Linked DNA regions of Homo sapiens. The protein of the gene in region 1 purifies or fractionates together with the protein of each later gene. This does not show direct contact. Each region holds a gene or a part of one and is shown in the gene's direction. Other genes may lie near its edges. The genes, in order: OBSL1, DDX27, EIF5B, HDLBP, NELL1, KIF22 and RALY.

Region 1 (3,500 bases):
GCTGGAGGGCAGTGGCGTGATCTCAGCTCATTGCAACCTCCGCCTCCTGGGTTAAAGCGATTCTCTCACCTCAGCCTCCCAAGTAGCTGGGACTACAGGTGCGCGCCACCACGCCCAGCTAATTTTTTTATTATTTGGTAGAGACGGTTTCACTATGTTGGTTAGGTCACCCCTGACCTCAAATGATCTGCCCGCCTCAGCCTTCTAAAATGCTGGGATTATAGGTATGAGCCACCATGCCTGGCTTTCTTTCTTTCTTTCTTTTTTTAAGATGAGGGTCTCACTGTTGCCCAGGCTGGCCTTGAACTCCTGTGCTCAAACGATCCTCCTTCCTCAGCCTCCTGAGCAGCTGGGATTATAGGTGTGTGCCACGCACAGCGTGCCTTTGCCTCCTAAACCCCTGATACACTAACACTGTCTCGCTGTCCACATAGCCTCTGCTGGGTTGGGTGGGGGAACAAAATGCAATTAAGGGGAGGAGAGATGGGAGCAAACACTTTTTGGACACTTACTCTGAGCCAAGCACTATGCTAAGTATTTTCAATATACACTCTTTCATTTAATCTTCACAACTCGATGAGGGGCAATATATCTCCAGTTCACAGGCAAAGAAATGGAGGCTGTAAGAGGTTATGTGACCTCCGTCACACCATAGCTTGGCGACACACACAGGATTGTTCTGTTCCTGCTGCCTCAGATAGAGTCAAACAGAAGCATCGAGTGCAGTCACCCCGTGGTTCTCACAAGGCAGTCCGTAGGCTGGCTGCTTTAGGAAGCTCCTGGAAGCTGGTTATAAATCCCTGGACTGTCCAGAGCCCCAGTATCCAGGGTGGAGCCTGAAGATCCTTTCCTAACAAGTGCAGACTCTCTGAGAGAGCAGCTTGGGAACCATGGATCCCACTCATCTCACTGAGTGGGAGTCCTGTTTTCCACACTGTGGCCCCTGCCTGAATGCACCCAGTGACAGGGAACCCACTACCTGGAGAGTGGCTGTCTCACTGTTGCCACTTGTTGGATCATCCTTCACCTCCTGCCCACCCTGGGGTCTTTCTCGTAATAGAGGCAGTAAGCATGGCCCTGATGTGACTTGTGACAGTGACCTCCCTTCAGCCTAGACAAATGGTGGCTGCCACTCTGTGAACTCTCTGTGCTTCCTTCTCTCTATGTACTCACCCCGCCACCTCTGATCCTTTGGGGACCTACAGAGCACTCTGGTGCCACATGATCTCCTGCCATGCCTCACCTGCCATGCCCTCAGCATTCCTTGTCATTGTCCCTGAGTCCCTACACAGCAGGACCTTAGCCCTCCTCCAGTGTCCTCTTGTGCAGAAACAGTGTCTCCTGGCCACACAGCTAGTTTGGACTCATTGTGCGGGGGTGTCTGTGCAATGCCATCTCTGCTTCCCACCCAGATCCTCCCGTGCACATCGTGGACCCCCGAGAACATGTGTTCGTGCATGCCATAACTTCCGAGTGTGTCATGCTGGCCTGTGAGGTGGACCGAGAGGACGCCCCTGTGCGTTGGTACAAGGACGGGCAGGAGGTGGAGGAGAGTGACTTCGTGGTGCTGGAGAATGAGGGGCCCCATCGCCGCCTGGTGCTGCCCGCCACCCAGCCCTCAGACGGGGGCGAGTTTCAGTGCGTCGCTGGAGATGAGTGTGCCTACTTCACTGTCACCATCACAGGTGGGGGGCCAGGTGGGCCTCGGAGGCACAGGGGAAGGTGCCCCTGCTCCCACTGGAACAGCTGCCACACCTTCACTCCCAGGCCACTGTTCCCCGCCCCTACTGCCCTCCCCCTGGCAGATCGGACCTCCTCCCTTTCTCCTCAAGCTATGGTCTAGTCACATTCAGGAAACGTGTTATCATAAGCACATTGGTCTTGGCTAAGGAAGCCTGGCTTTCTCTATTCTCCTGAAAACCTGTACCAAGGGAAATCTCTGGGGACAGTGAGTCTATTGCAGGGTAGGGCAGAGTCTAGGGCTGGTGGTCTCAGGCACTAGGGGGGCAAAAACATCTTGGAGGAGGAGACCCCCAGCTCCTCCCCCCAACCCTCCTCTCATCAGTTCCACCCTTCATACCGTCCCTGTCCCAACCCAGAGAATGTGGAGCGTTTCTACAGCCGAGGCTGACCCCGTGGTCCCCTCTGTGCAGCTCCTGCGCAGCAGAAAGTCTGCTGTGCTTTTGTGACAGCTGTATTCGTGTGTCTCTAGCTGTGAGTAACTGTCAGCTGCTGTGAGATTTGGTCTCAGGAAGGTCCCTCTTCAACACATGGCCTACTTTCCAGGGGTAGGGAACACAACGGGGTCAGGGAGGACGGCAGGGCACACCCCTCATGCCCGGCAGTGGCTGTCCCTGTCCTCCAGACGTCTCCTCGTGGATCGTGTATCCCAGCGGCAAGGTGTATGTGGCAGCCGTGCGCCTGGAGCGTGTGGTGCTGACCTGTGAGCTATGCCGGCCCTGGGCAGAGGTGCGCTGGACCAAGGATGGAGAGGAGGTGGTGGAGAGCCCCGCGCTGCTCCTGCAGAAGGAAGACACTGTCCGCCGCCTGGTGCTGCCCGCTGTCCAGCTCGAGGACTCCGGCGAGTACTTGTGTGAAATTGACGATGAGTCGGCCTCCTTCACTGTCACCGTCACAGGTGTGGGCCCAGCCCAGCTCCCCGGGGTCACAGAGACAGCCCTGAGCCCTGGAGGAGCTGGCCACATAGCCCCAGCTAGCACCCCGGGGAGGAGGGAGGTGTGGGCTGCAGGTGCATGTGCCAGGGTTCTTGCTGAGATGAGCCCAGGGCCCCTATTCAAGGAAACAAGCCCCTCCCCGGTGCCCAAGGCCAGGCCTAGCTCTGCTCCACAGCTCATTTACTGAGCACTTTCCCTGAATCAGGCACTGGGAGTAGCAGGTGAGTAATGCAAATACGGTCCCTATTCTGAATGAGCTGCCAGGCTAGGTGAGGAGGCAGCTGTTAACCAGGGGTCGCAAACGGGTAGTCCTGGGGCCCTGCGCATTCCACACATGTGCTTTGTTTGGTCTGCAGAGTCTTACCAAAGTCAGGACAGTTCAAATAACAATCCGGAGTTATGCGTCCTCTTGAAAAAGCCGAAGACCCGGCGGCTCTGGTCCCGCTTCCCCCCATGGCGACGAACAGCTGGCACTGAGTAGCAGCTGCCCCCATAGTTTGGGGCCCACATTCCTCTGTCCCACCTCCCTGCCATTGCTTTTTGCCTCTCCCCAGACTGCTTCAGCCGCTAACCTAACCTGGCCCCTGTGGGCATTTGAGTTTGCGACCCCTGTGTTAAACCAATAAACATGCAAATAAATGTACAGTGACACCTGGTGATAAGTACTGTGAGGGCCAAGGGCAGAGGGCTCAAGAGCACAGAGCAGGAGGGTCAGGGAGGCCTGGGAGAAAGTCACCCTTCCACACACGGGAGCCAGCAGCACGCAGACACGGCCGCTTCCCTCTAGGACTGCACAGCCTGGCAGGAAAGCCAGACGCATTCCAG
Region 2 (3,500 bases), on another chromosome or scaffold:
TCTCCTGCCTCAGCCTCTTGAGTAGCTGGGATTACAGGCATGAGCCACTGTGCTCAGCCTTACCAGCACTGCATTTTCAAGATCGTCTGGAGAGGATTAAAAAAATTTTTTTTTTTGAGACGGAGTTTTGCTCTTGTTGCCCAGGCTGGAGTGCAATGGCGTGATCTCGGCTCACTGCCACCTCCGCCTCCCAGGTTCAAGCAATTCTCTTGCCTCAGCCTCCCGAGTAGCTGGGATTACAGGCATGCACCACCACACCCGGCTAATTTTGTATTTTTTTAGTAGAGACAGGGTTTCTCCATGTTGAGGCTGGTCTCGAACTCCTGACCTCAGGTGATCTACCCACCTCGGCCTCCCAAAGTGCTGGGATTACAGGCGTGAGCCACCGCGCCCGGCCTAAAATTTTTATATATATAATATGTATATGTATTTTCAGAGAAGGCCAAAATTTTTTCTTTTTCAAGTTAATTATGAAGAGTTTGTTCTCTTATTCGATGTTTCAATGAAAATTTCTTTTTCACCTCTTTATTTTTATCTGCAGAGGGCAGCCACTACATTAGATGAGAAGATTGAGAAAGTTCGAAAGAAAAGGAAAACAGAGGTGAGAAGAAAAGTGGCTATTTTTCGTTGTTAGGGCCCACTCTTTACTCTCACCACGACCCCAGCATCTCTCTGGAAGCCCTTATAGAGCGGGGCATGGCTGGGGCAGGCGCACTCTTCTGTGTGTTTGCTGTGAATCTGTACTGAGAATCCCCACAGCCGTTCATTCAGGCCGGAGAGCTTCCTATCGCTCTACTTAGGTTCTGGATTTCTAGAAGTTTCTCATCACCCTCACTTTAATTTTTTTCCCAGGATAAAGAAGCCAAGTCTGGGAAGTTGGAAAAGGAGAAAGAAGCAAAGGAAGGCTCTGAACCAAAGGAGCAGGAAGACCTTCAAGAGAATGATGAGGAAGGCTCAGAAGATGAAGCCTCGGAGACTGACTACTCATCAGCTGATGAGAACATCCTCACCAAAGCAGGTAGACGTTACGGCGGAGGTGTCAGTAATGGGGACAGGAGATCAGAAGGCATCCTCCTTTACTTTGTAGGGTTTCCTCCACTCTTCTGCACAGTTTATCTTTAAGCTGTTCTGCCTACTACATTGAACTCCTTTCTTTCTTTTTTTTTTTTTTTTAAGAGATGTTGGCTGGGTGCAGTGGCTCATGCCTGTAATCCCAGTACTTTGGGAGGCTGAGGTGGGTGTATCGCTTGAAGCCAGGAGTTTGAGACCAGCCTGGGCAACATGGTAAAACCCCATCTCTACTGAAAATACAAAAATAAGCTTGGTGTAGTGGCATGCACCTGTAATCCCAGCCACTCAGGTGGCTGAGGTACGAGAATCACTTGAAACTGGGAGGCAGAGGTTGCAGTGAGCTGAGATTGTCCCACTGAACTTAACCCTGGGCCACAGAATGAGACCCTGTCTCAAAAAACAAAACAAAAGAGATGTGGTCTCACTCCATCCACAGGCTGGAGTGCAGTAGTGCAATCATACCTCACTGGAAGGCTTGAACTCACTGGCTTAAGTGATCCTCCTGCTTTAGCTTCCTAAGTAGCTGGGCCTACAGGTGCATGCCCCTGCGCCTGGCTAATTTTTTTTTTTTGTAGGGACGGGGTCTTGCTTTGTTGCTCAGGCTAGTCTCAAATTTCTAGGCTCGAGCAGTCCTCCCGCCTTGACCTCTAAAAGTGCTGGCATTACAGGCGTGAGCCACTGTGCCCGCTGAATCCTTTCTTTTAGGTTTTCTTTTCTCTTGGGATTTTGTTTGGGTTGTTGTACTTCATAGGTAGTTTACTCTTTTCCCATCTAGCCCCATGCGGCTGCCAGATGCCACTGTGATACAAACTCATTTGGGGTGACATACTCAGATGGGTCCAGCCACATAGTGGGTGCTCAATAAGTATTTCTTTCTTTCTTTTTTTTTTTTTGAGATGGAGTCTTACTCTGTCACTCAGGCTGGAGTGCAAGTGGTACAATTTCAGCTCACTGCAACCTCTGCCTCCCGGGTGCAAGCAACTCTCCTGTCTCAGCCTCCCAAGTAGCTGGGACTACAGGCACACGCCAACACACCTGGCTAATTTTTGTATTTTTAGTAGAGATGGGGTTTCACCATGTTGGACAGGCTGGTCCCGAACTCCTGACCTCAGGTGATCCACCTGCCTCGGCCTCCTAAAGTGCTGGGATTTTAGGCGGGAGCCACTGCTTCCGCCCTCAATAAGTATTTCTTGCAGAAATGTGTGCTAAAGCATCATAATACAGTGTAGTGGTCGAGAGCCTGGTCTCTGGACCAGAGTCACTGGGTTAGCTTTCTCTCTGACCTTAGGCAAGTTACTTCACCATGCTGCCACAAAGTGTCCTCATCTGTGAAACAAGGTTGACGATGGTCACCCCTCAGAGGCTGAAGTGTGGCATTGGCACTTAGGACAGTGTCCAGCAGGATGCAAGTGCTTTGTAAGTCTGAGCCGTGGTCATCAGCTAAGTTTTTCTCCATAGATACACTCAAAGTAAAGGATCGGAAGAAGAAGAAGAAGAAAGGACAGGTGAGCTTGGGGCTGCAAGACAGTATGCAGCTTGTTGGCAAACCGAAAGGAGTTTAAGGTCGTTTGGGTTTCTTGGCTCTTTTTGTTGAATTCTCTTCTCTCTTTTGGTTTTCTGGTGTAGGAAGCAGGAGGATTTTTTGAAGATGCATCTCAGTACGATGAAAACCTCTCGTTCCAGGACATGAACCTTTCCCGCCCTCTTCTGAAGGTAGCAGCTTCTTGTCAAAAATTTTCTTTGTAGAAGCATGGTCTTGCTATGTTGTCCAAGATGGTCTCAAATTCCTGGCATCAAGCAATCCTCTTGCCTCAACCTCCCAGAGTGCTGGGATTTGAGCCACTGTGCCTGGCCAGTAGTGGCTTATTTTGGCAACCATGGGATTATTGCAGCCACCCCTAACTGGACTTTCTGCTTCTCTCTTTGCCTCCCTCAACTCTTGTCCATACAGTTGCCAGAGAACTCCCTTTTTTTTTTTTTTTTTTTTGAGACGGAGTCTCACTCTGTCGCCCAGGCTGGAGTGCAGTGGCACAATCTCGGCTCACTGCAACCTCCACCTCCCGGGTTCACGCCATTCTCCTGCCTCAGCCTCCCCAGCAGCTGGGACTACAGGCACACGCTGCCACGCCCTGCTAATTTTTTGTATTTTTAGTAGAGATGGGGTTTCACCGTGTTAGCCAGGATGGTCTCGATCTCCTGACCTCGTGATCCGCCCGCCTCAGCCTCCCAAAGTGCTGGGACTACAGGCGTGAGCCACCGCGCCCGGCCGAGAACTCTCTTAAGCAATGAGTTCCATCGTGTCCCTCCTCTTCTTCTCTGAGTCCTTCAGTACTTCCCAGTCTCACTCTTCTTAGAAGCCTGAGTCCTTATATTGACCTACAAGGCTCTGCCCCTTCTGGCCCTCTCTGACGACACCTCCTGGCACTCGT
Region 3 (3,500 bases), about 120 Mb from region 1:
AACCCTTTCCTTACTTTCTGATGCAACAAGATATCCCAGGTTCATCTTGCATGGGCTGAGACCTGGAATCGGTTGTTTATCCAAAGAGCTTTTGTTCCTTTTAGAGGGTAATAGTGTTTAGAGATCACAACTGGGCATATAATTTATTACTTTTTTGAAAGGTAAGGTGATTTAAAATAGTGTCTTTGCTCCAATGAGAAGAATATATTGGGACCTCTCTTAAATTTCCTGCTCCTATATTCCCTAGATTTTTATATTACAGTCATTTTGGTGTTTATGCTATAATTACAGTAATAGCTACCATTTATTGTGTGCTTAGTGTGTAACTGATGCTACAATGTCTTTGACATTGTCTATTTTTCCCTCATAAAAAAATCTTATAGCTATTTTTACTTCCATCATATAGATGAAGAAATGGTGGTTCAGAGTGTAAACAGCTTACCCAAGGCCACAGAGCTGAAATTTAAGCTGGTCTGTGCAACTTTTTCTTACGCATATGTTCAGCTAGGAACATTAGATGTGAAGAAACCCAGTACTTAGATTTTAGAAAGTTTTATTCTTAATGGAGAATATAGCTTTTGTAAAATTTTAAATGAAATTAGGTACAAACTTGAATATAGTTAGCATTCATACATCAGATTTCATTGGTGACTATTGGAGAGGCTAAAAGCACCCATGAAGAAATTCAGATGGGACCAAGCAGGGAGTAATTTGCCAGTCTCAAAAATGCTGTTTTAAGGAGCAGTTAGACTTGTAGTTATGGAAATTACAGTGTAGAATGGTGGACTTTTAGCATCAGTCTTTAGCATTAGGCTTGTAAGAGATGCTCTCTCAAGTGGCATCCCTGACGCTGGTCTCTTACTCTTCATAGTGTTGTCCAGTGTTTACCATCTTATTAGTTCCCTATTGTCTACTAATAAGAATCCAAATTCCTTAGCTTGACATTCAAGGTTCCCCCCCACCCACAGCCCACTCATGTGAGTCATCTCATTAAAAGATCCTACAGTGTTGTTTCATCGTATGTTTGAAAGACAGCTGCTTACCACATTTATTACCTAGAATATTGTAAAACTTATTCATTGAGCTAAAAATGTACTCTCAGAGAGTGTAGGCATCTGCAGGTGTCTTCATATAATTGCTCTGAAATGTGCAGCAGGTTAACTTTTCAGTCATCCTTTAGCCTGTGACTACTAAGCATATACACACACACACATATATGAGTACTTTATCAATAATTTGTAATAAACTCATTTCAGGCAAAGAGCTTCTTCAAGAACTTGATTGTTATGTCTCAGTTTGCAAAGTGAATGGAATGTCTAAACACATACAAGTCTTGGTGTTGATTCCAAGTACAGCAGCTTATTTGAGAGTCTGAGACTAGAGCAGTAGTCAGTTGATTAAGTCTAGGGTGTTATTGGGACCACCCTTCAGGTAATCCAGCCTACAGTTTCCCCTCAGGCCCATGCTTTTCATCTTAGTAGGTGTAGGCTGCTAGGCAAGGAAAACTTAAAGTGATGATCTCTGCATTCTCAGCTGGCTTTATCCTCTTTCTTTGGTTTGTTTAATGTATTCGTCTTACCAGTCATAGCTATGGTTTTACCATTCTAGCCATTCTTCAGTACATGCACAACACACATCCATATACATTCCTACGTTAGAGATAACATTTTTAGTCATTTTCCTTTATTAGTGACTTCATTCAAAATCCCATGGTATACAATTTCTGTTGTCTTTATTCTAAGGCTTCTGCCCATAGTGAGAGACTGAGTCAGTAATCCAGTAATCTGTAGATTCAGTTCAATCCCAGTCAAAATCACAGCATGGTATTTTGTAGCTATCTGTCAACTAGTTCTAAAATGGATATGAAGAGACCAGAGAGTTAGAATGGCCAAAATATGTTTGAAAAAGGAGAACAAACTTAGAATACCTGATTTCAAGACTTAGTATAAAGCTATAGGAATTAATACAGTGTGATATTGCCAGAAAGATAGACAAACAGATAAATAGTCTATACATGGTTAGTATATAGGTGAAAGGTAATTCAGTGGATAAAATACAGTATTTGTAGCAAGTGGTACTAGAACAATTGGACATCTGTATGCAGAAAAACCCAAAACCAGTTTTAATTCCCACTGTATAAAAATTGACCCAAATGGGTATCATATGTAAATGTAAAATATACAATAATACTTTCAGAGGAAAACATAGGAGGATATCTTGTGTTAGGCAGAGTGCTTAGATAGGACTCTAAACCATAAAAGGAAAAAAGATACATTTTGAGAAAGACCAGTTCAGAACTTTTCTCTGCAAAAGACACTGTCAAGAGAATTCCAAGACAGTACCTCCAAGTCAGATATCTGAGAAAGAATTAACATCCAAAATATATAAAGACCTCTCAAAATTCAACTATAAGAAAACCAATAAGTTCATTTAAAAATGGGCAAAAGGTATCAACAGACACTTTCACCAGAAAGCTATACGCATCTGAAAAGAATGTTCTAAAAAAAGAGAAACCTTTACCACATTCAGAGCAGTTGAAACTCTTTTTTTTTTTTTCTCTCTTTTTTTGAGACAGAGTTTCGCTATTGTCCAGACTGGATTGCAGTGGCGCAATCTCAGCCCACTGCAACCTCTGCCTCCCAGGTTCAAGTGATTCTCCTGCCTCAGCCTCCTGAGTAGCTGGGATTATAGGCACCCACCACCACAATATATATATATTTTATATAATACAATTTTTTGTATTTTTAGTAGAGATGGGGTTTCACCATGTTGGCCAGGATGGTCCTGGACTCCTGACCTCAGGTGATCCACCCACCTCGGCTTCCCAAAGTGCTGGGATTACAGGCGTGAGCCATTGCGCCTGGCCAAAACTCTTCTGCATTAGTGGTGGGAATGCAAGATAGTATAGCCACTTTGGAAAACAACTGGCAGTGTCTTTATAAAAATTAAGGTCATATTTACCTTATGTTTCATCATTCACACTACAAAATATTTGCCCAAGAGAAATGTTCACACAGAAACCTGTCTGAAAATGTTCATACCTGCTTTATTCATAATTGCAAAAAACCAGAAACAACTCAAATGTCCTTCAGCTGTTGAATGGATAAGCAAACTGATATATCCATACAATGGAATGCTGCCCAACAATGAAAGTAAACGAAGTATTGACATGTGCAGCAGAGTGAGTGACTCTCAAATCCATTATGATGATAGAGGCCAGACCGTAAGATTCCATTTATGTGACATTTTAGAAAAAGCAAATCTTTTGGTTGGAGAACAGATCAGTGGTTACCAGAGGCTAAGAAGGTAAGGAGGGTTTGATTACATGGAGCAGCACAGGATGATGGAGTGATGGAGCTTTTCTGCATCTTCATTGTGATGGTGATACACGTATCAAAACTCTCACTGTATGTGAAACGAGGATTTTTACTGTATGTAAATTTTAAAATACCTTATATGTAAAAGATACAAGTTTTTCCATGAATATCCTTTCATATTTT
Region 4 (3,500 bases), about 22 Mb from region 1:
AAGCTTTTCCCTCTTTTGGTAAGAAGTAACCAAGTTCTGAAAGAAGCATATCATGCGGCTTTCCCAATTGCCAAGTTATGATGACACAAAGTCCAAAATGCGTGTAAAGGTTTTTGACCAAGTAGAAAAGCAGAGAACCCCAACCAGTATAATGTGTCAGAATGCTTTTTCTCTTCAATTGTAAAAGCACCACAACGTTCAACATCTGGAAACCAAGAAAATAATGAAAAGAACCTTTTTTCATGTGTATAATATTTTAAAACTTGGTTACATGTTATTTTTTGGTATTTCTAAAGTCAGAGACATTTTAGAAGTGAAATCCCTAGTAGGCTATTGTTTTACCAAGCACACTGAAGTTCCTCGAATACCGTTGAAGATGAGCTAGACATTTGTTCTGAGACGTGTCTGGACATCATGTGGTTGTGTTAGTCATCTTGTTGATACTTGTTGTTAATTTGGTAAGAATACATTGACTACATACTCTCCCTTACTACTTTTTATTAGCATTCATATTAATCTTATTTCAAATCAAGGTTACAGCTTCATGTCATTTGTAGAGTCAGATAATCCTAGAAAGGCTTGTAAGAAAGAAGTGCCAACATCCTTCCCCTAATCATGTTTCCTCCCCTGCAGAGTATCTACTTCAGCCTTAGTAGATTTCCTTGATCTTTGCCTCCAACTCTAAAGAGCATATTTGCTTGACGTCTGTATTTGTGTCTCCTACCCCTGTTTCATGTGATGTCTCTTCGCTTGACACTGAGAATAGGTAGGAAGTTCCTAGCTTTCTTTCACCCTCTGCCTTCTCAGTGCAAACGGATCCATGGCTGCCCAAAGTGATATATCCTTAATTTGGTTAGTTCAGTATTGATTGTTTATATTATGACTACATATTGCCATTTACAGCTGGACGAAGTGGTATAATAGGATTGTTTTCACTTTTCTGGATAACTTTTTGTTTTCCTGGGTTATTACAAGTCTTATTTGTTTTTGTTTGCTTGCTGCTTGCTCAGTTTTCTATATTTTGTCACTACAATTCAACCCCAAATTCTGAAGCAATTATCTAAATCTTTCAAGAAATTGTCCGTTTTCTTTTGAAGAAAATTAGTATTCCTATCATTTTATCTTGAATAAATCTCTCCCAGCGCCTCCAATCTGCTGCAGGCTTGTCTGTGCCTGAAATCTTCCTGTAACTCTCCTCACTCCCTCTTGTGTTGGAGCCTCACTTTTCTGGAACCTATGTCATTCTCTTGATTTGACTGTCTCACTTCGATGGAGCACATCCTTCACTAGTTGCCTGAGAAGTGCATGGCAGATGAAGTTTTCAGAATTTGTATGTACGAAAGTGCCTCGTTCTGCTCTTATCCTGAGTAGGAATTTGGACATCATTTTGCTCCGCGGTCTCTAAGTTTCCAGTGTTGTTGAAGTCTTAAGCCGTTCTGATTCTCTTTTATTGATACGTAACATTTTTAGAGCCTTTGTGTGTGACTATGTTTTCCTCCATGAAACCTGAAGGTTTTTGTTTCTTTTTTTTCTTCTTTCTTTCTTTTGTTTTTTTTTGAGACACAGCGTCTTGCTCTGTTGCTCAGGCTGTAGTGCGGTGGCGCTGTCATAGCTCACTGCAGCTGCAATCTCCTGGGCTTGAGTGATGCTCCTGCCTCGGCCTCCCAAGTACCTGGGACTACAGGCATGCACCGCCACACCTGGATAATTTTAAAAACTTTTTGTAGACATGAGCTCTCTATGTTGCCCAGGCTGATCTTGAACTCCTGGCCTCAAGTGATTCTCCTGCCTCAGACTCCCGAAGTGCTGGGAGTGAAGGCTTTGCATCTGGCCTCAGAGGCTTTTCTTTCTGTGAAATTCAGAACTCCCAGAACAGTGATGTCCCTTGGAGACTGTTTTCATCCATCGTCTTGCCTACTCTTTGGTCCTGTTTATTTGCAACTCATGTTCTTCAACGCTGGGCATTTTTTTGATTTATTGCTTTGATTTCTTCCTATTTGCTTTCTCTCTCTCTCTCTAGAATTCTACTCTTGGACTTTCTGGATTGGCACTCATAATTTTCTTAAGGTTTCTTTTTCCCCCCTCTAAAATTTTTGTTTTTGTTTTTATCTTTTAAATTGTAAATTGACAAATTATACTTGTACATATTTAGGGGGTACAAAGTGATGTTACGATTTATGGATACAATAAATAATAAAATCAAGTTAACATAATTCATCACTTCAAATACTTTAAGTTTTTTGTGGTGAAAGCATATGAGATTACTGTCAGCACTTTTGAAATCGACATTATTATTTACTATATTCACCGTGCTGTACAATATATCTCATAAAAGAAAACCACATTCCTCCTGTCTAATTGATGTTTTGTACCCTTTGGTTTTTCATTTTCTTTCTGGAAGTTATTCTCAAGTTTGTCTTCCAGCCCTTCTACCAAGGTTTTTCTCATTTCTAAGAGCTTTTTCTTGTTCCCTCTATTCCTATTTTATAACCTATTTTTTGTTTCATGAATGTGGTATCTCCTGTTAACTGTTGGAAGATATTGATGAGGTTTTATTTTTCCCTGTTTTCTTTTTCCTTAAGTCACTATTGAGGCTGCTCTGGTTTGTTGTGGGTTTTTGGCTTTTGTCAGCCTTTTCTGGGCTATGCAGTGATGTTCTTGTGCCTGCTCGTGAGTCAGAGGGCCTCTGAGCCTGTGTCTGTGGCTGACTGTGGCTTTCACTGCAGAGGCACCTGGCTGGGCCATTTCCTTACAGCACCCTTGTCAGCTTCTTTGGGTTTCTTCAGATTCCCCAGAGAAATATCTTGTAGCCCTTTGCCTGGCTGAGTGGCCAAGTGAGGAGAGAGGCCTGGGAGCACAGCAGTAACCATAAAAGAGCTTACTTCCCTCTTTTCAGAATTGTTTCCCTCCTCTGTAACTGGTGTCCCCAGTCCAAAGATTCTACTTCCCTTTGCAGACAGAAAAGCGATACCTTTTTGCCAGGATAGGAGAGGGACTGTGCAGGTTGGCTCTGTGTGGCTGTGCAGAGTTGTGGGGTGCATCTTAGGGATCTTCGTGCCTTTTAAACCTATCAGCCAACTCTGTTTTTAATTCAGGTCTCCTGGCTTCCAGTCATATTGCCAGTTGGCCTTCCCCATTGCCGATACAGGATTCAGCCCTTTTAGGTCTGTTTCCAGTTTCTAGCCTCCAGTATTTTAATGTTCTTATCTCTATTCTTATTCTTTGCTTTCGTGATTTGTATCTTAAAAAAAGAAAAAATCGTTTACTATCATTTTAGTGGTGCTTCACGAAGTAGTGTAAATGTATTGATCTGACAACGGCTCGTGCTGGAGACACTGTTCCAGGAAGTGGGACACAGTAAGGAAAATGCAAGTGTGTTCTCCTGCACTTTCACGGAGGTCACGTTTTGGTAAGCGGTGTCAGGCAGTCAGCAGACCAGCAGATATGCAGTATGTCCAATGTGGACAAGAAGAAAGGAGGAAAATAAAGTATCGAGGGGA
Region 5 (4,144 bases), on another chromosome or scaffold:
TTCTGAAACGTTGGAATTGGTTTCCAGGAAACGAGGGACGGCTGTTCTGAGGTTTCCTTGGACTCCTCTGGGATCCCTGTTGTGAATATCAAAGGAGTACTGCTGGTGAGGGGGAGCGGGGGCTTCAGAGAGAGTGGGAAGACTGAGCAAGCTAAGTGGAGTTCATTTGGTATAAATCAGAGGCTGTCATTTCAGATTTCATGACTCTACATATCCAGTTATAAATAACGTTCCTAGGTGTTAGTAGGACAAATAGGAAGTGGGACAGAAGTCTTAAATTTGGGGGATCTTCATAGGGAAGGTCAGGTCCTGAAAGGGTCGCATAGAGGGGAGAGGACCCATTCTCTTCTTGCCGGCAAGTAGAAAACAAAGCCCAGCCCAGCTTTTCTCTCCAGAGAATGTTGTGGTGGGAGAGGGAAAAGAAGGTGGAGGTCCCGGAGGAATTGCACATGGGGCCAAAATGTGACTATGAAAGAAGAGTGGGCTTTTGATAATACCATTAAGAAAATCACGCAAGAAAGAAAAAAAGATGGTTAGGAATTACCCCTATGTGGCAGCATCTGCCCTGCAGAATGAGAAGGTTTGCAAATAGACTTCCCAAACCCCAACCACAGCTCGCTCCGCCTCGAGGACCCCTTTTCTGCACCCCCACCTCAGCGCCCTCTTCCTGCACCCACAAAGAGAGTACTCAGTCATAGGGGTTCAACAGGAGAGAGGAGACAGAAGGTACAGGCGGTGAGCAGGGACTCAGCCATCATCCCCCTCAGGTCCCTCCCCACCCAGTTGACAGAGCGAATCCCGAGTAATTGTTTTCCGAGGGGGTCCGTGCGCGCTCGGTGGCGCCGCCTCGGTCTGGGTTCCCCCGAGGAAAAATACCCACCCGCGAGGGCTCGGCGGCTTTTCGACTCGGCGGGGATGAACTGTGGCAACTTCGGCAGCCCCCACCGCGGTGCGGAAGTAAAGAGGGCAACATTGGCGACTGCGGCTCGGAGGGGCTGGAGCGCGTGAAGCCGTGGGGGCGCCGTGCGCCTCCCGCTCTCTCGTTTCGGCCGCAGGTCCTGGGACTCCGACTTCGGTGCTCCGGGTGATAGCGGCTGCGGCGCCTGCAGTCCAGATCCTCGCAGTTCTGCGGGCGAAGGAGGCGAACGGAATCGGCCCCCAGTGGGGAGCGCAACAAGCCACAGTAGCCAAACCCCGCGCTCCTGCCCGGGCTCCCAGACGAACGCAGCCGCAGCGGGGGGCCGGGCCCCGAGCCCCACGCCGCCGCCGCCGCGCCAGCGGTGGGGGGCGGGCTGGGGGCGGGGCGGCCGGGGCTGCCTTCCCGGGCGCATATGCGAGCGCAGCACCCGGCGCTGCCGAGCCACCTCCCCCGCCGCCCGCTAGCAAGTTTGGCGGCTCCAAGCCAGGCGCGCCTCAGGATCCAGGCTCATTTGCTTCCACCTAGCTTCGGTGCCCCCTGCTAGGCGGGGACCCTCGAGAGCGATGCCGATGGATTTGATTTTAGTTGTGTGGTTCTGTGTGTGCACTGCCAGGACAGGTAAGCATGACTGTGGCGGTTAGAGGGATCCGGGAAATGGGGGTGCCCACAGACCACGGCGGCGTGGGGAGACCTGGAGCCGAGCTTTGCGCTGGTCTGGGGAACGGCGGTAGCGTGGACCGGTTCCTGGGATCTCTTTGCCCTGCTCGGAGTGACAGGGTGAAAATAGGGACTCACGGGCTTGAAGATGTCCCCGTTGAGTGCCCCTTCTCAGGGGACCCGGCCTCAGGGGCGCAGGAGTGAGGGGCGCGGCCGAGTAGGCGCACCCTCTTGCTGCTAGTAACCGGCTTTCCGTCCCAGGGAGTCGAAACCCGCAGCAGGGCGGGCCCGCGTGCCCCGAGTTCCCGAACTTGTAAGGTGCTGTGGAAACCACTCTCGCCGACCCCCGCCAGGCTGGGAAGGGGTAGCTGCGGGAGTCGCACCCGCAGAGGGAGCGCTTCCGGCTGGCGGGCGCGGCCGGGGCCCGGGAGGGCGCGGTGCGGCGAGGGCAGAGAGCTGCGGGAGAACCCTGGGATCCCGCGATCTCCTCCTGTGCCTTCCTGACTACCCAGGAGAACTCCAGGAGTATTCTCCTCCGCCTGTCTTTGCTCCCAAGGGCTGGGCGAACAATTATCTGAGGGAAATAGAGCAGTGGAGACAATCTGGGGAAATTTTCTCAAGCTCAAACCAGTTTTCTCTTGCCATAATCGCAGGGTTCCGTGTGGGGAGGGGGGAGCAAGGATGACGCTTGATTGTCTGAAGTCCCCACTTCGTTCTGCCTCCGGAGACGCAGTTGTGAGGACTCTCAGCGCATCTTCTTCCTTCTGCTTCCACCGGCTCCCTTGCCCAAAAGTCCCCTGGGGTTCGGAGACTGGCTTGCAGCCGCCTTCTTCAAAGAGCTAGTAGTAGATGCGGGGAGACTGGGGTGAGGTGAGGTGGGGTGAGATGTAGGAAATTGGCAAAAATAGGGCCTGTCAACTGGGGGGAGTGTCGGAGGTTTGCAATCCTACCCAGCCATCCTCCGTACGCGCTGCACCCCAGAATCTGTGTGGTCATTCCCTTTCCCTTTATTCTCCCCCCTTTACCATCCTTATTTCCTTCTTTAGAGGCGTGGCCTTCTCTCTAGGCCAAAGAGCAAGTTCATCTGGAGAGGGCTAAGAAGGGGCGTCTGCACTTGGTTGGCTCAAAAGTTCCCTCCGCTTGCGCCCAGGCGCCCCTCTTTGGCAGTTAGCCCGCTGGAAGATCTAGCGTCTAGGAGCTTTCAGAGGGCCCTTCCCACTTCCCCAGGACTGAGCAGGCAGCGGCTTTCGTCTGGTTAAGAATGTTGAATATGGATTTCTCAAGGGACAAAAGAAACCTCCCATTCCGTTCCTTACCTCTATCCGAGCTTCCCAGGCTGCGGAGACGCCAAGGCTCAGTCTAGCTTAGAATAGTTGCTTCTTGAGTTCAGGCCCATCCGGATGGGTTAGTCTTTTAAAACCAGGACACGCTGAAGGAGTGCGCGCACCCCAGGAAGATCAGGACAGGCAAGACTAGTGCAGAGCGTGGGCTACTGGCTCTGAGCGCGAGAGTCTGGTGCTCGTGGACATCTTACAGAGGAACCGCAGACAGGAAGAAGCTAGGTAGGGAGGGGGCAACCCGTTAGTGAGTTCACATCCCTAAGTGCACATCACTACGGAATATGCCTAAATCCTTTGTTCTCATTACTCCTTTGAAAAGTCGCCAAAGTACCCTTATCACGGAATGGAACGTGTTTCAGGGTTCATTGCTTGTGGAAGGGGTCTTTAAGAACAGGTATTTTCCCTCTTTCCACTTCCAATCCCCTTTAAATCTTGTAAAAATTTCGTTGTAGGGGAAGATTCATTCATGTCTTTACTCATTCAACAAACGATGTCTTGCTGGGTGCCAGGATTTCTTATGCAAAGAGGAAATGACAGTCCTTGACTTCTAGGAACTTAAAGCTCAGCTGGGAATCTAGATAGAAACTGGCAGGCATTTTAATTTTACAGATTGATGGGGGGGGTGGTGGAGAGGTAGGAGTATAAGTTTGTATTAAGGAAATGTGGAGGAGAGACAGTTTGAATTAATTCTAGGGAGGAGTGGTGGTCAGGGATTTGAGAGATGTACCTTCAAGGCTTTCTAGGGAGTTTTCCAGGTGGACAAAGTGGGAAGGCATTCTTGGCAGAGGGAGCAGATTCAGCAAAGGCAGGGAAGCATGGAAGGATCTGACCCACTGGTTGTGGCTGTTGCCTAGGGAGCTTGGGTTCTCAATGTCACTTGGCACTATTTGAACACTAGAGGCCGCATATTTCTTCTACACACATTATCGGAAGAATCAGAGAGACGGGGGAATTACCTCTCAATTTGTACACTTAAAGTATCTTGTAGCTTGAGAGGGTATAAGCGGTAGCTTTCTGGAGGCAGCCCTCTGATTCTGTGCAGAAATCATTTCCACATCATCCATCCACCCTCTTCTTAGGTAACAAAGGCTGGCTTGTGATTATCAGCATCCAAACAGCTGCGTTGAAAGTTTCTTTGTCAAGTGGGACAATTGTTGTCTGGGCTGTTAACAGTCCTAGATGAAATAAACATGTGGTTCACTTAGTGAGCTGCTCAGATATCACCGGC
Region 6 (2,567 bases), on another chromosome or scaffold:
GCAAGACTGCATCTCAATAAATAAATAAGTAAATAAATAAATTCCCCCCAAATTCTACTCCATTGAATCACTAAAGTCTAAGATTAATCTCTCCTCAGTGCTGCTGCCTTGGGGACCTAAGGAGGCCTCCTCCTGGGGATCCTTTCCATTTTCCAACCCCTTTAGCCTTCAGCAAAACTTCTCACTTTGGGACAGCTGTTTCAAGGATGAGCATTTTTGCTTCTGGTTCAAGGAGTGATCTGGATCAGATCTTTCAGATCCATGAGAGCAAAGCAAAGGAGACTTGGAAGAGCTGTCCTGCTGAGACCATCTGGTCTGTGTGTCAGTGCCCAGCTTCTCCATGACTCTCCGGGGAGCCAGCTGCTGTCCTAACTGCGTCTACCCTCAATCCAGATAAAGCCTCTAAACTAAGTCCTTTGTGTCACCTCCTGCCCCAACTCCAATCACCCCACCTCATGGCCCAGTATGTACTAATCCTCAGGTCATCTCTGTTCAGGGGTCTTGCTTTCTGTGTCTGGCCACTTAGCCCTTGCGCTATTCCCTCCACCCCCCAGGAGCCAGTTGCAGTTTTAACTTTGCCCTGTTTCTACCCCTAGCCCAAATAAAGCCTGTGAACTACTAAACAGAGGTGACCTGAGGTGGCCAAGGGTTAGTGCCCACTCTGTCCCAGGGGGCTACTGTAGTTAAGGAAGATGCCACACACAAGAAGATGCTTGTGCACTCATGACCCCATCTCTCAGTCTTGTCTTTCCCAAACCATCTGTCAGCACTCCCCACTGCTGTGTGCACCCAGAAATGTGCACAGGTAAGCTGTCAGACAGGCACTCTGAGTAAGGGGAAGCTCAGAGTTGGGCACATCAAACCCAGCAGACCCAGAGCTTGGGGGCCTCACAGGAGAGCAAGTCAGATGGGAACATCAGTATATGATACCAGGTGGAGAATTCAGAATCAGGAAGGAGTAGCTGCTGCTGCTGTGAGAGTCAGGAAGGAAGAGATGACTTCTAGTGTTTGCCCACGTATGTTCTGATCCTGTTTTTCCAAGGCACTAGCATGGAAAGCACAGGAGTGTCCCTGTCCTCCAGGAGCCAGTTCACAGCATAGGAAGGGAGATGCATTGTTAAGCTTGGCGTCATGGGAAAGGTGGCATCAAACTGACCTGGAAAGATTATTGATACAGATGTGAGGAGGTGTGGGGCAAGATTCCAGGCAAAATAAATGAATGTTAGACGTTGCTGACTGGGCGCAGTGGCTCACACCTGTAATCCCAGCACTTTGGGAGGCCAAGGTGGGTGGATCACTTGAGCCCAGGAGTTCAAGACCAGCCTGGGCAACATAGTAAGACCCCATCTCTACAAAAAATAAAAAAATTAGCTGGGCATGGTGGCATGCACCTGTGGACCCAGCTACTCAGGAGGCTGAGACAGGGGGATTGCTTAAGCCTCAGGAGGCCAAGGCTATAGTGAGCTGTGATCTCAACACTGCACTCCAGCCTGGGTGACAGAGCAAGACCCTGTCTCAAAAAAAAAAAAAAAAAAAAAAAAAGAATGTTAAGCCTTACCGTGCTCAGAGTCAGTCAGGACTGCTTGAACAGGCCTTCCCAGCTGCCCACAGCAGGGAAGCTTGGCAGCTGAGGTCTTCGGTGGATTTCAAAGCCCTGCTAAAGATGGCATCCTCTGTGATGTTTTCCGCAACTGCTCCTCCAAATGGATAGGCACTGTCCTGGCTGTCACCTTATTATGGTCTCTTGATTTCCTCAGTAGACAGTGCCTCCAGGGCAGGGCAGTGTCTTAGGTCTCTCATACCTGGCACTCAAGTGTTCGCCTGATTTCCTGGCATCCCCGAGCAGTCACTTCACCTGATGAAGACACTGCACCCAGAGAAACTGGATGCCTAGCAAGTTAACATTAGGTTCTGGAGCTACAGGATATACCAAGTTAAGGTGTGGTGAGGGGAGTCCTGCTGCTGTAGGTGGTGATGAGGGAGGAGGTAGGTGGGGAGCAACTTCTTTTTCTGCTCAGCCCCCTACAGAAGCTAAGCAGCATGGACCCGGCCATGCTGGAGCGCCTCCTCAGCTTGGACCGTCTGCTTGCCTCCCAGGGGAGCCAGGGGGCCCCTCTGTTGAGTACCCCAAAGCGAGAGCGGATGGTGCTAATGAAGACAGTGGAAGAGAAGGACCTAGAGATTGAGGTACGTGTTTTAGGGATGTGGGAGCTGGATTCCTATTGGCCTTGAGAAGCAATCCTTGGATCTTCAGACAGGGAAGGACACTCAGGCTGGACTAGAGTCCAGTTTTCTCCCAATACCGGAAGTTCTCCAGCTTCTGCTTGAATGTCCTTAACATGGCTGAACTTTGACAGACAATTGAGACCAGATGTGAGGGTGAGAAGAAAAAGTTCAAAGTAAAAGCAACAAATGTTAAACATTACATTTCCTAAAGCCCAGCTCAATTAATTGAGGACTGTGCTTGAAAAGCCTTTCCCTTCAATATTTGCAGAGGCTTGTTCCACCTCTGGGTAGCCCCCTAATCACAGAAAGCCCTTAATTATGTTAGGCTCCACCTGTCTCCT
Region 7 (2,237 bases), on another chromosome or scaffold:
AGCGTACTCCAGTGACAGCAATCAGTAGGAAGTTTGCATCCGGAGACACGCAGCCTGTCTGCCCCTGTCTTGGGCCACCCGTCTAGACATTTGTTCTCTAACAATCAGCCGGGTTCCTTCAAACGTGTGCTGCTTATACATGCTCATTGTGTACTGCTAATGTCACCTACTTCCCCCTTCATTCCCCACAATGAATGGATCCATTTTCCCCATGTTCAAGTTCCCAAGAGAGAATCGACTGCCACTGTAATTTTTTTTCCTAATCACTCATAGGTTACAAGTACCTACCCTGGTCCAGTGAACTGCGGGATTCATATGTGGCCACTTAGGCTGGTCTCGTTGGTATGGAGCTGTGGGAGGGCAGCACCCAGAAATAGGCTTTGTTCCAGGCCTGGCACGTACTCCTCCTGCTCCTACTTTCTCTACCTGGGAAATAGCCGCTCAGGACGAAGCTGCTGCTGTGGTGTCGCCACCTCTGAGAAGTCTCCCAGACCCTCCGACTGCTCTTTAATTGCCTGTTCTCTCCTCTGGAAGCCTTCCCCCAACACAGAAAAATTCAATCCCATCATCAAAAAGGGCTTTAGGTTTTCCCTCCATCTTTACGTGTTGATCAAAGTTTGCAGATCTGCTGGAATCCTTATTGAAAACTCCCCATTTCAAACCAACCCGGTCTACAGCCTCCAGGGAAGCTTCCTCCTGGGCTTTGGCTCCATGTTTTGGTAGAGGGTGGAGGCTTTGGGCAGTGCTCAAACTCCACCGGGAAGTCTCTCTCACTGAGCAGCCCTCCTGCCTGTCATCCTGGGCAGGCGAGCACTCTGAGGCCCCAGTGTAGCTCTGTGCTTTGATATTCCCAAGCTCTGCTGGGGCCTGACTAGGCCAGCCCCAAGGTGGCCAGAGTTCTGGCTTCATACCTGAGCCAAAAGCCCCAATCCATGCTTGGCCATTGCCTGAGTATTAGCTGCCCCAGGGGGATCACGGTCCCCATATATTTGCTTGCCATGGACCCTGGGCAGCAGGGAGAGAGTAGAGATTTGTCAAGAGCCCATGGTGGAGGCTGAGGCCCTGAGGCCATGAGATGCAGGCATGGGGTGAGAAACAGGCCCCTTGGAATTGGGCTGGGCCTTGGCCCAGCTTAGTCAAATCAAAAGGCTTCTATTTGGAGAGCTGAAGAGGGTGTACAGAGGAAGGGGCTAGGTCTGCAAGGAGTGCCTCATCTCCCTGAAGAGCTCTCAGTGGAACATACTTCACCCATCCATGTACCCACATCTTTCCTTGCCCAGAAGGCGAGAGCCAGCTATAACAGACCCATTTCAATACCCTGGCAAGTCATTACTGCCCTTAGCTCTTGGTGTCCCCATCTGTGAAACATGGGGGACAGCTGCTAGCCTGGATTGGAACTTGGGCAAAGTCCAAAGAATGGGATTTAGAGCTGAATGAACCTCACACTGAGGGCACAATAGCACTAGGCACTGCCCCCAGAGCCTAGTGCTATATGCCTGCTGCAGGTCCTACCCAAGCATGCTTTACTGAGGAACTCAACGTTTCAGAGCTTGAGGGTCAGGTTGATCATGGGCTTGTGACCATAGGCTTCCTTAGTATGCCAGGCTTGGAGAACCGTGAGAAAAGCAGGGAAGATACCTTCAAGGGTAGCAGGCATCAGCTCTACTCACCTTGGCCCATAAGGCTTTGCCTGGTCATGCTGGCACCGGGTCATATGCTGGACAGGGAGAACGAGAGTCCCATCCTGGAACTCCAGAAAAGCCCCTGGATGCTCCAGCCCCTGGGAAAGCACACAGCCAGGCCCTTGGGTGGGAGGTTGGCTTCTAACAGTGCATACACATGCCCTTCCTCTGAGTCGGGGCAGCAAAAACATCCATTCCGCTGCGCAACAGTTGTCATTTTTCTAACATCTGAAAACTCCAGAAGGAGATGGTGATAAATGTGGTACCGGATTCTGCCTAAAGGATCAGTCTTTAGATGTTTTCAGATTGAAAGCCTCATTTGTGATCCTCACAGCCATCTTGAAAGAATAGAGCAGCCAGTGGGTATACTGGATTGTGAGCTAAGAGGCCTGGGACTTTCCCCCTGTTGCTGCCAGCCAGGTTGATGACCCTGGGCAAGTCTTTTTCCTTACCAGGTCTCAGTTTCCTCAGCTGTAAAATGAGAGGTTGATCTGGATCAGGGATAGTAAATGGGCCTTTGTTCAGTTACTGACTGTTGTATAACAAACCACCCCC

What was found.
Region 2: the proteins of OBSL1 (region 1) and DDX27 purify together in Homo sapiens (affinity purification with mass spectrometry, with the first as the bait; 2 studies listed by BioGRID). This does not show direct contact.
Region 3: the proteins of OBSL1 (region 1) and EIF5B purify together in Homo sapiens (affinity purification with mass spectrometry, with the first as the bait; 2 studies listed by BioGRID). This does not show direct contact.
Region 4: the proteins of OBSL1 (region 1) and HDLBP purify together in Homo sapiens (affinity purification with mass spectrometry; 2 studies listed by BioGRID). This does not show direct contact.
Region 5: the proteins of OBSL1 (region 1) and NELL1 purify together in Homo sapiens (affinity purification with mass spectrometry; 3 studies listed by BioGRID and IntAct, with this or other methods). This does not show direct contact.
Region 6: the proteins of OBSL1 (region 1) and KIF22 purify together in Homo sapiens (affinity purification with mass spectrometry, with the first as the bait; 2 studies listed by BioGRID). This does not show direct contact.
Region 7: the proteins of OBSL1 (region 1) and RALY purify together in Homo sapiens (affinity purification with mass spectrometry, with the first as the bait; 2 studies listed by BioGRID). This does not show direct contact.

What each region holds. Positions count from the first base shown.
Region 1 is NC_000002.12:219,561,540-219,565,039, reverse strand, and holds part of OBSL1 (obscurin-like protein 1 isoform 1 precursor), read left to right. Parts: intron 1-1,412; coding exon 1,413-1,685; intron 1,686-2,365; coding exon 2,366-2,638; intron 2,639-3,031; coding exon of another isoform or gene 3,032-3,156; exon of another isoform or gene 3,157-3,318; intron 3,319-3,500. UniProt on the Homo sapiens protein: Core component of the 3M complex, a complex required to regulate microtubule dynamics and genome integrity. It is unclear how the 3M complex regulates microtubules, it could act by controlling the level of a microtubule stabilizer.
Region 2 is NC_000020.11:49,222,416-49,225,915, forward strand, and holds part of DDX27 (probable ATP-dependent RNA helicase DDX27), read left to right. Parts: intron 1-541; coding exon 542-601; intron 602-852; coding exon 853-1,018; intron 1,019-2,529; coding exon 2,530-2,576; intron 2,577-2,697; coding exon 2,698-2,784; intron 2,785-3,500. UniProt on the Homo sapiens protein: Probable ATP-dependent RNA helicase. Component of the nucleolar ribosomal RNA (rRNA) processing machinery that regulates 3' end formation of ribosomal 47S rRNA.
Region 3 is NC_000002.12:99,364,889-99,368,388, forward strand, and holds part of EIF5B (eukaryotic translation initiation factor 5B), read left to right. Parts: intron 1-3,500. UniProt on the Homo sapiens protein: Plays a role in translation initiation.
Region 4 is NC_000002.12:241,309,173-241,312,672, reverse strand, and holds part of HDLBP (vigilin), read left to right. Parts: intron 1-3,500. UniProt on the Homo sapiens protein: Appears to play a role in cell sterol metabolism. It may function to protect cells from over-accumulation of cholesterol.
Region 5 is NC_000011.10:20,668,242-20,672,385, forward strand, and holds the start of NELL1 (protein kinase C-binding protein NELL1 isoform 1 precursor), read left to right. Parts: upstream 1-1,344; 5' UTR 1,345-1,482; coding exon 1,483-1,537; intron 1,538-4,144. UniProt on the Homo sapiens protein: Plays a role in the control of cell growth and differentiation. Promotes osteoblast cell differentiation and terminal mineralization.
Region 6 is NC_000016.10:29,800,751-29,803,317, forward strand, and holds part of KIF22 (kinesin-like protein KIF22), read left to right. Parts: exon of another isoform or gene 1-52; intron 53-2,018; coding exon 2,019-2,187; intron 2,188-2,567. UniProt on the Homo sapiens protein: Kinesin family member that is involved in spindle formation and the movements of chromosomes during mitosis and meiosis. Binds to microtubules and to DNA. Plays a role in congression of laterally attached chromosomes in NDC80-depleted cells.
Region 7 is NC_000020.11:34,080,911-34,083,147, forward strand, and holds part of RALY (RNA-binding protein Raly), read left to right. Parts: 3' UTR 1-2,237. UniProt on the Homo sapiens protein: RNA-binding protein that acts as a transcriptional cofactor for cholesterol biosynthetic genes in the liver. Binds the lipid-responsive non-coding RNA LeXis and is required for LeXis-mediated effect on cholesterogenesis.